3 linked regions of the Homo sapiens genome follow. The protein of the gene in region 3 purifies or fractionates together with the protein of the main gene of each other region. This does not show direct contact. Each region holds a gene or a part of one and is shown on either strand. Other genes may lie near its edges. The genes, in order: NKTR, FRMD6 and ZNF543.

Region 1 (3,652 bases), on a different chromosome or scaffold from region 3:
GTTCTAGAGATATATCCTTGCTGAAACATGTAGCTGTAGTTCATTTTCTTCAGAATATTTCGTTATATATCTCTACCTTAATGTTTTTTTAACCCATTCTACCATTAGTGGAGATTTGGTTTATTTTCTTCTCAGTGTTATTGGTGTTATAAATCAGGCTTCTATGAACATACTTGTGCCAATCTTTTCTTGTTTTTCTTTATTTTCTTCTGTTTGATTTTAACCATGGTTGTTTTGAGAGTTCCTCATTAGCTGACACTGTCATATCCACTGTGAGGAGTTTGTGAGAGGCCTTTCTTCTTGTTGTGTTTTCCCCTTTCTGCCCTACCAGTAATTAATTTTAATATCATGATGAGTCAACATAATTATATATTTTTTCAATTGCTTTAATTGTAGATCAAGAAGCTACTCTAGAAGTCGGAGCAGAGGATGGTACAGCAGAGGCCGAACCAGAAGCCGGAGCAGTTCCTACCGGAGTTACAAAAGTCACAGGTGAGCTTGTGATCTCACCCTGTGATGTGGTCTCCATCATGTCCACTTTTTAAGGCTACATAGGCAGAGGGGGTAGTTGTTGAGAAGAATCATGTCATTACTGAATATACTACTGGCCTATTTTCTCATGTAGTTTTTTCTATGTAAGAGCTGTGGAATTCTTGACTATTCCTCTGTTGGGATCTTATCAGAGTGAGGCAAGAGGAGCAGTAGAAATATTTAAGAAGCCTTGACCCCTACCTCCACCTCCCCCACATGCATCTTCCTTAACCTAAGTTTTACATCTGCATTCACCTCTTGACATGGGTTAGAGATTGGGATAGGAAGATTGTAGAGAGGGGACCAAGAGGAAGAAGTATATATATGGTGGGAAGGGTGGCCCCAGATTTCTAGTTCTCCTAGCTTCTTTCCCTCTTTTGCATCTGAGGTATTTTCTACTGCTGTCACTTCACTTTACTTACAAAGGTCCTACCTGTACAGACCTTTCCCCTAACTCCACCCAGTTTAGAGCCTCCCTAGTGACTATATGCATCTCAGAGAAGAACTGCATAAAACTTGATCTTATGAAATCCAATAGGCTTTTTAAAAAATCCAATATACTTTTGATATGAAAACAAAACAAATGTAGCTGTGGGATTTCACTGTATTTTCACCTTGATGGGCAAATAAATGTCTAGATATTTGGTATAGCCTGTCCTGCCCTGATCTATAAGATGATGGTCCTTCATGTGATTAATATTAGGACGTCCAGCAGGAGCAGATCCAGGAGCAGCTCATATGATCCCCACAGTCGATCCAGGTATGAACAGGGATTGGGAAACCACCAGTGGGGCAGAACTGAAAGATCTTGTTTTGTAAACTGTTTGTTCAAAGTGGTATTTTATTGAGTAACTAAATGCATATATTTGTCTCCTGAAACCATACCTTTTCTAAATGAGGTCTGTTCGACAAGTTTTATCTGTTGGCCCATTGTACTCCAGTGTCAAAAATGACAATATCAAATTGTAATGGCAGGTGTTTATTGAATATAATTGCCTACAGAGATCCACCAGGTTCAAACTAACTCGTTAACTTTGTGATATTTTTCAATGCAGAAAAGAAATTAACATTTTTCTCTTTAATTATGGTAAGTCTCATTTGGGGCAATTGTTAAATGTTTCCAGTACTTGTTTTGGAAATATATCCTCATGCTGTCACCTAGTGCCCATGTTCTAAGCTAGAACACTCCTGAGATCCTAAAAAGAAATAGGAACATATGAGTATCTGAGTGGGAAAATTTAGTGTTTGTTGTTGCCGTTAAAGCAGGTCCTACACCTACGATAGCTACTATAGCAGGAGTCGGAGTCGAAGTAGAAGCCAGAGAAGTGACAGTTACCACCGAGGCAGAAGTTATAATCGGCGGTCCAGGTGGGTCTCTCTCCTTTATCGTCCTTTATCGCACTGTAGGCCACGGTGGGCACTTGATGTGGGAGGGTGATGGGCTGCTAGTGGAAGAGAAAGTGGTATAATCTTCCAAGGACAGAAATACTTCTTCCTTTAAATCTGAACAACCCACAAGCAGCCACTAAAAGTGGCTTTTATATTAAGAGTTGCCAGGTAATATTTGTTGGTTATTATTAATGTTTGAATCTAAAATGGGTTTCTAAATATTCACATATCTTGGACAGACCTTTCTTTTGGAAAGAAAGAAGGCCACCCAAACCATGGCCACTTGCTTAAATAGAACCACTTGCTAGCAGTAGCCAGTTTCTCATTTTTTTTAAATAAAAAAATACATAATATAATTTGCTTCAGCAGCAGGATTGAGGTTTATATGTTGTCAATTATTTAGTAAAATACATTTTTTATGTATTATATGTATTATGTTTAACATATTTTGGCTTCTGCAAAAGTCTTTATGTTAACTTTTGTACTGTCCTTTTCTGGTGGCTTCTGGTCTTGCCTTCCCCTGTCCATTGCAACTGCAATGATGCTTGTAAATATCAGTCTGATCTGGATACTCCCTTGCTTGAAACTCTTCAAGGACTCCCTGCTGCTTTCATGATCAGGTCCAGCCTCCTCAGCACCAACTCCAGCTCACACTCTTTCTGGCTTCCCTCCTTTAAAGTGTTGGGACTTTTCCTTCTGCCTGGAGACACACGTGTCCTCTTCACCATCTCCCCTTTTGCCACTTGAAATGGCCAGTTCCCATCTACCCTGCAGATCTCCACTGTCCCTGGGCAGCCCTCCCTGATGCCTAATCCTAGGATACAGTCCCTCCCATGTGCCTCTAAGACAGCCCTTTGCTCCTACTGTGGCTCCCCTTGCTCCTAAATTACTTGTCTTGCTGACTATTCTATTCTGTCCTTGAACCCCAGAGAACTATACTTGGTTTTGTGTCTTTGTGTGTGTGTGTGTGTGTTCCCAGCATCTTGCAAAATGCCTGGCTCACAGTGAATGTTTTTCAAAATAACTGAATGGGACCCATGACCAGGTCCTCTTGACTCAATATCCCAGTGGTCCTGTTCATGCCCAGGGCCACCCCCACCCCTCATTGGACCCCATTTTGGTTTCCATTCCTTGAGTGAAACTATTTGTGCACCTTTTCCCCATTACTTTTCTCAGGTAATCTATTCAAATATTGATACTCATTTTGGGTAATATGGGGAAACTATTCTGCTCATTGGTTTTTTGTTTTTGTGGTCCCAGCATTTGCATGAATGAATTTCACACAAATTTCCTAAGATGTGATGTTTCTTTATTTTATCTTAATCTTGACATTACTACAACTTGTCATTTAAAACAGCTTCAAAAAGTCCATAGTGTGAGTCGGGCACGGTGGCTCACGCCTGTAATCCCAGCACTTTGGGAGGCTGAGGCAGGTGGATCGTCTGAGGTCAGGAGTTGAAGACCAGCCTGGCCAACATAGTGAAACCCCGTCTCTACTAAATAAAAAAAATTAGCTGGGCGTGGTGGCGGGCACCTGTAATTGCAGCTACTAGGGAGGCTGAGGCAGGAGAATCACTTGAACCCGGGAGGTGGAGGTTGCAGTGAGTTGAGAGCATGCCGTTGCACTCCAACCTGGGCAAAAAGAGTGAAACTCCATCTCAAAAAGAAAAAGAAAAGTCCATGGTGTTGCCATAGTCAGTACCCTACCTCTGTGTTATGCTGCATCAATAGT
Region 2 (3,652 bases), on a different chromosome or scaffold from region 3:
CCTCTTGATTCACTCTTGTTGATCCATAAATGATCTAGGATGGACCCTAATTTCAAAGGACTGCTTTGTCAATATTTTTGGAATAATTCATCCTTAAGAAAATGTTTCAAAAATTCAGTTTTTGGACTTCTCCTGCCTTTATGCTTCTCCCTCTTTTCTCCCTTTTTGTGTCTTCCTTCCACCCCCATCCAGTTATCGTTTCTTAAAGATCCCTGGAAACATCCAATCTTTGTCTACTGAGAGCAGCAGTGAAATTCTGACGCTAAAATCTGTGGCAGTCTCCAGGAAGTACTTATTGTAAAACATAAGATTATGATTTCACTGAGAGATCTAACAGATAAAACAAAGTGCTTGCAAAGGAAAACTATTCATGTATACATTTTATTTTATGTTTCCCTAAAGAATAAAGGACAGTTTTATTACTTAAGAAAAGACTCAGAGCTTCAGCTTAAGCTCATTAAAAAGGTGAAGAGAAGTTAAAATTAGAGAATTTTATAAATATGTGGTATTTATATATCCTACCCGAATAAGATACTGCTTATCACAGCAAAAATTTAGCATATGTAATGTTAACAAGTAAAAAATATGCTGACCATAGGGCCACAGCTCTGACAAGTTGCTCATGAAATTACTACAGAATAGCGTAATCCGTATTGAAGACAGCATAGAAGAGGGATAGTAAAATATAATGATAGGAATGAGGTCTTCGAGATCAGTTCCCTGGGGCCCAAATCCAGACTCCAGTATTCTCCCATGTGTAACCTTGGGGAAGTTACTTAACTCTCTACACCTCTTTTTCCTCATCAGTAAAGTGGGAGATAGTTATAATAGCTATCCCACAGGATTGTTCTTATTTTTAAGTGAAATGGTACGTGTAAAACAAATGGCATGGTCTTTGATATATAATAAACGTCTTACGTGATGTTAGCTATTGCTGCTTAAGACAAAAAGAAGTGATGTATAAAAGGACTTATAGTTTTATTGGAGGTTCCCAAGCCTTCATTTATAAGCATTTCATGAGATTTAACTTTGTTTTTTGATGGCATTAAGCAGGCAACAAAACCTAGTATTTCTCAGTTACAGATACTGGCAAGTCTGTGTTGCTGCAGTAGGAGCAGCTGGCCTGTTGCACTGATTACTAATTGATCGAGTTATTTTTCTTAATTCTCTTCTAATTTCCAGCCGTCTCAGTCCTTCAGCTTCTGTCTGCTAGATAACTGTTTCTTTCCATATGTCAAAAAAGCCAGCCTGCAGATTTTTAAAATTCTCCTTACGGTGACTGATGTTGTGCAAAGTTCTTTTAAAGAGTACCACTGACTGGCCCATGTCTTTTGCTCATGTTCCCTGTATGGCTTCATGTGAGTACTTCTGAAGAAAGCCACTATTATTGATATAAAGCAGTTCTTTATTCCCAACCCCTAACCATTGGCACAGTTTATATAATGTGGGTCAGAACCATTTGTGATTTTCTGTTATGAGGGCCAGAGTTTGAGATTTTAAACCATTCATTCAAAGAAACTTAAGAAAGACACAGTTAAACACCTTAGAAAGATACATTTTCATCTAACTAGCCTAATTACGAGCTCAGCTAAAAAAGGTACAGGATCCTCTAGAAGAATCGTGCTGTATCATTCTGATCTGTTTGTTAAAGGGCGGGGGACCTAGTCCAGATAACCCAGTTCCCCGTTTTGATTGTGTGTGTAAAATCTTGAGCTTAGTAAACTTAGCACTTTAAAAATGTTCACTAAGTCCATCAAAAGCCAGGTTTTATGTCTTTATGAAGTATTCAGGACTGTGCTGAATACTTTGTGCAATTTCTGTCAATGTGTTTCATGTCTAGTTGGGGGAACAAAATACATGTGTTTGAAAAGATATTAGATGTTTCCAGATGAGTGTGAAGTTGAGCTTTCGTTTTAGGGTCCAAAATCAAGGATGATCACATAGGATGTTCCCAGCCTTCCTGGGGCCACTGGATTTATACTGGTTAGTGAAGTCAGGCTAAGATTTTTCTATCCTTCAAGCCCATAGAAAAGGGGCTTTTCTAGTAGCAACAGAATGTGCAAGATCTGGTAAAAATCTCAAATATTAAAAGACAACTATGAAATTAAAATTATTAAATGTTTAAATTCATGCATTCAATATAATGTATGCCTAGGATATGCCAGGCACTGGTCTAGGTCTGAGAGATGTCAGTGAATAAAATAAAGGAAAAAAAAAAAAAAAAAATTCTGCCTTCGTGGACCTTATATTCTATTAGGAGGCAATCAGCATAAGAAAATAAGTGTTGTAGTATTTTGGAAGGTAATAAGCCTGATGGGAAAAAGAAAAAGTAGAGCAGGCTAAGGGACAGTAGGAGTGCTGGGGGAGGGAGGCAGGGACTTTGCGATTTGGTGGAGTATAGTCAAGGTAGGCCTCACTGAGAAGAGGGCTTGAAGGAGGAAGAGAGCCACACAGAGCTAGCTGGGGGAAAAGTGTTGCAGCAGAGGGACTAGTGAAGGCATCAGGCGGAAGCATGCCTGATGTGTTCCAGGAGCAGGGAGAAGGCCACAGTGGTGGAGCACTGAGAGCAGGGAGAGAAGGAGTAGTAGATAAGGTTAGAGATGTTTGGAGAGCACATGTTTGGCTTGTGTGGACTGTATTCAGGACTTGACTGTGAGTGGAATGGGGAGCCAGGTTTTGTGCAGAGGAGTGAGAGGATTTGATTTGCATTTTAATAGAATCACTGGTTGCTGTAGGAATCTGGAATTTAGGGAAGAGGTCTAAGTTGGAGATACAAATTTGGAAGTTGCCAACAGAATTTGGGTGAGATCACTTGGGGAATATGTGTAGTCAGAGAAACAGGCTTATGGACCAAGCCTTGGGGCATATCAGTATTTACAGTTTGTAGAGAGAAGAAGAAATCACACACATAATCCAAGAAGTGTTTTAAGCCAAAGTAATTATGCACGTTTTTCCAACATAGTGAACCCAATTAAGTGTCTCCATTCCTTGAGTAACAATGTTATCACTAGAAGATATTGTGAACTCTATTGATCTACACAATGGAAGAATGAACTATGAGTTGTTTTTCTAATTGCGTTGATGGTCTTGGGCTAAACCTGGATGCTTCATCTTTTAGAGGTTGTGTTGATAAGGAGGAATCAGTAAAAGAAAATTAAAAAGGAGCAAGCAGAGGATAGGAAGAAAATTAGAAAAATGTCCTTGTAGTCAAAGAAAATATCTCCAGCAGAAGAGTGGATCAGTTAGCTCACATGTTGCTGAGAAGTCAAGCAGGGTGAAGACTGAGAGTTGCTCATTGGATTTAGCAACCTGGGGAGTCATTGGTGATGATGACAAGAGCTGTGTCACTGGAGAAGTGGAGATGAAAACCTTATTGGAGTGGGTTCAAAGAGAATAAAAAATTTATGAAAGATAACTATTACTTGTAATTCAGTTTTGTATATTACAAATATTCAATATTGATGTGGGTACATTTTAATATGCCTGGTAGGATGTGCAGTGGGACTTTGGAAATGGGAATGTTGGAGGCCGTGCATATCTTCAGCAGGCTTTGTCAGGGTTAGGGAGCCTTTGAGCTTTTCCCTAGTTATTATTGGTAGGGGTAGGGCTCTAGTATATAGATTGTAGTTTGTATATTTTGAAATAGAGAAAC
Region 3 (4,140 bases):
ATATACATATATACATATACATACATATATATACATATATATACATATACATACATATATATACATATATATACATATACATACATATATATACATATACATACATATATATACATATATATACATATACATACATATATACACATATATATACATATACATACATATATACATATATATACATATACATACATATATACATATATATACATATACATACATATATACATATACATACATATATATACATATATACATATACATACATATATATACATATATATATCGCATTTTCTTTATCCAATCATCTGTCGATGGACACTTAGGTTGATTCTATGACTTTGCTACTGTGAATAGTGCTACAGTAAGCATGTAAGTACAGGCATCTTTTTGATATAGTGGTTTATTTTCCTTTAAGTAAATACCCAATAGTGGAATTGCCAGATCAAATGGCAGTTCTATTTTCAGTTCTTTGATAAATCTCCATACTGTTTTCCATAGAGGTTGTACTAATTTACATTCCCACCAATAGCATATAAGCGTTCCCTTTTCCTTGCATCCATACCAACATCTGTTGGTTTTTTACTTTTTAATAATAGCCACTCTGACCAGTATAAGATGGCATCTCAGTGTGTTTATGTGTGTGTGTTTTCTCTCATCATATCTCATTATAACCTCAAATTCCTGGGCTCAAGCAATCCTCTTGCTTCAGCCTCCCAGTGTCTAGGACTACAGGTGTACACCATCATGCCTTGCTCTTTTTTTTTTTTTTGGTAGATATAACATCTTACTATATTGCCCAGGGTGGTCTCAAACTCCTGACCTCAGCAATTATTTTGTGTTGGCATCCCAAAGCACTGAGATTACATATATGAGCTACCTCCCTAAAATAAGGGAAGTGAGCCAGAAGCTCTGGGCCCAGCCCATGATCTCAATCGGGGCGAATATCCCCGCCTCCTGACCTCAATTTTCCTAAGCTAGAAAGGACCTTTCGACCCTCCGACTTGTGCCCATAGTAAAGCGGCGGCCCTAAGACGACGCGGGGGTCCTTGTGCGCACTTAAATGGAGTCGGCTGCGCTTGGTGAGTTCCCACACCCGGTAGATGTGAGGGAAAAACTGCCTTACTCAGAAGGCACCACCCCTTGCGTCGGCCGCGGACTCTAGGCCAATGACGGGCCAGGACACGGGCGATTTCTGCGGGCCAGGGCGGCGGAGGTGGGACTTCCGCTTCGTCGCGTGACGTCATCTCCGTGAGCAGGATTGGCCCTGGAACAGTGTGGGGCCTGGACCGCTGGGTAGGCGCGTCCAGCGGCCTGAGCAGGGGAGGGTAATGAGGCTGTTACGCGCCTTCTCCGCATCTTGGCGGGAGCCTGACGCCCCGCTTCTTCCCTAACGGGGTGTTCCACCGGCGCCTGCCGAGGCCTAGGCCTCCGCAGCCGCCCTCCGTCTCCTCAGCCCCGACGCTGCGCCCGCTTTGTGCGCATTTTTCTCTGGGGAAACTGAGGCTCCGAGTGCGAAAGTCAGCCGAGGTCGCCCCGCCCAGGACAGAGAAGGGCTGGGGGTCGGCTGAGCCGCGGCATTCCCGGGCCCCGCTAGGGCTGCAGGGTCTCAGGATGGCAGCCTCGGCGCAGGTGAGTGGACGAGGTTTTGGCCTTGCTGCTGCTCTGCTACTTCTGGAGGCCTCGTGGGCAGGCAGAAGCCAAGACAGCCACAGGATGTTTCTTTGTCGCCGTCGTTTATTTAAGAGAAGTGGCCGTAGCTTGTCATTTCCTTTATCCGCAGTCCTGCAATAGTGTTGGCCTCCGACAGGTGCTCAGTCCTTGGTAGAAGGATGAATGATGCTTCCTTCATGGATCTCATCACACTTCCCTTAAATCCAACCTCCTCTGTTGCCTGCCAGCCCCTACCCCATCCACCTGGCCAACCACCCCTGACCTTGTCTCTCCATTTTTCCCTTGTCCTTTGCTCTTCAGAGCCACCAACCTGACCGTGCAGTCTTCTTCCTTTTTCCAGGCTTTCTCTTTGCACTTCCCTTTGCCTTGAACACTGCCCCTATAACTTCGCAGGGCCTCCCTCTCATATCTTTCTGGCCTCTGTCCAGATGTCACCTATTTGGAGGTGGCTTTCTTGGCAATTCCGGCTAAAGTGGCGCCTTACGCACTTGCCCATTTTTGGCAATGTGTGGCATTTTTGTATAGAGAATCTGACGATATTAAAGAAGCTTGCCGTTTGAGTTGGTCTAGGATGTTATGTGAACAAAGAGAAACGAAATAATTGCAAAGAGTGACAGCTGATCATAAAGAGTCCTTGCTGTGGGCTGATTGGCAGGCATTATTTAACCCTCAGCTCCTTTAATCCTGAACTCCTTAGAATTAGGTTCTCTTGTCCTCACTGTTTTACACAAGAGCAGCTGGAGGCTCACATAGGTTCAATTACCTGCCTTACATCACTGTAGCTCTTAAGTATCAGAAACTAACAACTGGTGTGTCTACCATCACAGCCTGTGTTTTTACCCTCTTCTTTGCCCGCAATGGTTAGGGAGGCCTGGGGGTGACACCTAAAGTAAACTTTGCAAGTTGAGCAGGCTTCCTTCTAGCAGGTGGTCTTGGACATGAGGAGTCATGGCATTTCATGCTGGTGGAACTGTGTGGACTAAAAAAAAATGGTTTATTGGTTGTTTAAGGAGTCCGCAGGGGACCCGTGTGGCTTCCACAGTGGTTTCCTGAGTGGTTTTCTCCTATACCAGCTGACACATGTCTTGGGACACAAGATTTTGTGGTCTTTTGCTAGATGTGCCTTCCTCCTTAGCCAGGACAGACATAGCCAGTCAGGGGCCCATGTTCTCATGGCTACAACCTGCTGTGTCCTCTGTGACTCTTGTTCCTTGCTCCTGAAGTATCCTGACCTCAGGGATACTTGTTGGTAGGACTCAAACAGGAAAAGGTAGTGATAGCTCGTTGTGGATTCTTCCTATGAGAATGGGCATCTGTGAGGCCCAGAAGTGTCCGAGGCAGCAGATGCAGGTCCAGGCCCTGCCACTTTTGAGGCAGGTGCCACCACCTCAGGTGACTCTTCTGTGAGGTAGGTGATTATGACTATGCTGCTCTGCCCAGGTCCATGAAAATATTTCAAGTGGCTAACCCCAGCACAGTGGCATGTGTCTGTATATCCAGCTTGGGAGGCTAAGGCAGGAGGATCATGAGTTCAAGCCCAACCTGGGCAAAATATTGAGACCCTGTCTCAAAAAAAAAAAAAAAAATCCTGAAAATATTTTCAGGGTGGCTCAAATGGATGTATTTCAATGTTTCCCATCCTCATTAACTGTGCATTAACTTTGCTAATGAAGGAGTGTCGGGTTGCATGATTAGAACATAGACCATAGGGCCCTGGGTTCAAATTCTGTCTCTCCTGATAAGAGATGTGACTTTGGGTAGACTAGTGGAGGTCCTGGACCTCAAGTCTCTGAGTGTGACATGGAGATGATGATGGTGAACTCAGGAGCTGTGGCCCTTTGCCCCAGTGTTTCCTTTACAGCTTTTCTTCAGATCTTTTGACTATTCTTGGTGAAGTGGAAAACCCTGTTGTGTTGACCTGGACATCAGGGCTCAGATAAATGAAATGAGATTTCCAAGGTCACATAGCAGGCTTGTGTTGATTTCAGGAATTTGGTTTTAAACCTCAGGAGTCTGACTCCTGAGCTGGGGACTTTTAGTCACTTTACCATGGCATGTAAAGCCATTAGCATGAGGCAGGCTCACAGGGAGGATCGGTAAGACTCAGGTGCTGTTCTTGTTGTTGTTGCTGGTGTTGTTTTTGTTATTATTCTTTCCCATTCCTCTGATGTCTCAGAGCACTTACTGTCTTGCCTCTCAGTCCCCTTAGGATTGTCCTAACCTTATTTCTGTGTGAAGTGGCTTTCTGCATAGGAGGCTTCTCTCTCTTCACTGCTGTAATTTTTTTTTTTTTTTTTGAGACGAGTCTCGCTCTGTCACCCAGGCTGGAGTACAGTGGCACGATCTCGGCTCACTGCAAGCTCCGCCTCCCGGGTTCACGCCATTCTCCTGCCTCAGCCTCCCGAGTAGCTGGGAATACAGGCGCCCGCCACCGCGCCCGGCTAATTTTTTTGTATTTTTAGCAGA

The links.
Region 1: the proteins of ZNF543 (region 3) and NKTR purify together in Homo sapiens (affinity purification with mass spectrometry; one large-scale study listed by BioGRID and IntAct). This does not show direct contact.
Region 2: the proteins of ZNF543 (region 3) and FRMD6 purify together in Homo sapiens (affinity purification with mass spectrometry; one large-scale study listed by BioGRID and IntAct). This does not show direct contact.

What each region holds. Positions count from the first base shown.
Region 1 is NC_000003.12:42,642,105-42,645,756, forward strand, and holds part of NKTR (NK-tumor recognition protein), read left to right. Parts: intron 1-396; coding exon 397-492; intron 493-1,234; coding exon 1,235-1,291; intron 1,292-1,794; coding exon of another isoform or gene 1,795-1,797; coding exon 1,798-1,899; intron 1,900-3,652. UniProt on the Homo sapiens protein: PPIase that catalyzes the cis-trans isomerization of proline imidic peptide bonds in oligopeptides and may therefore assist protein folding. Component of a putative tumor-recognition complex involved in the function of NK cells.
Region 2 is NC_000014.9:51,658,406-51,662,057, forward strand, and holds part of FRMD6 (FERM domain-containing protein 6), read left to right. Parts: intron 1-3,652.
Region 3 is NC_000019.10:57,319,240-57,323,379, forward strand, and holds the start of ZNF543 (zinc finger protein 543), read left to right. Parts: upstream 1-1,232; 5' UTR 1,233-1,614; coding exon 1,615-1,632; intron 1,633-4,140. UniProt on the Homo sapiens protein: May be involved in transcriptional regulation.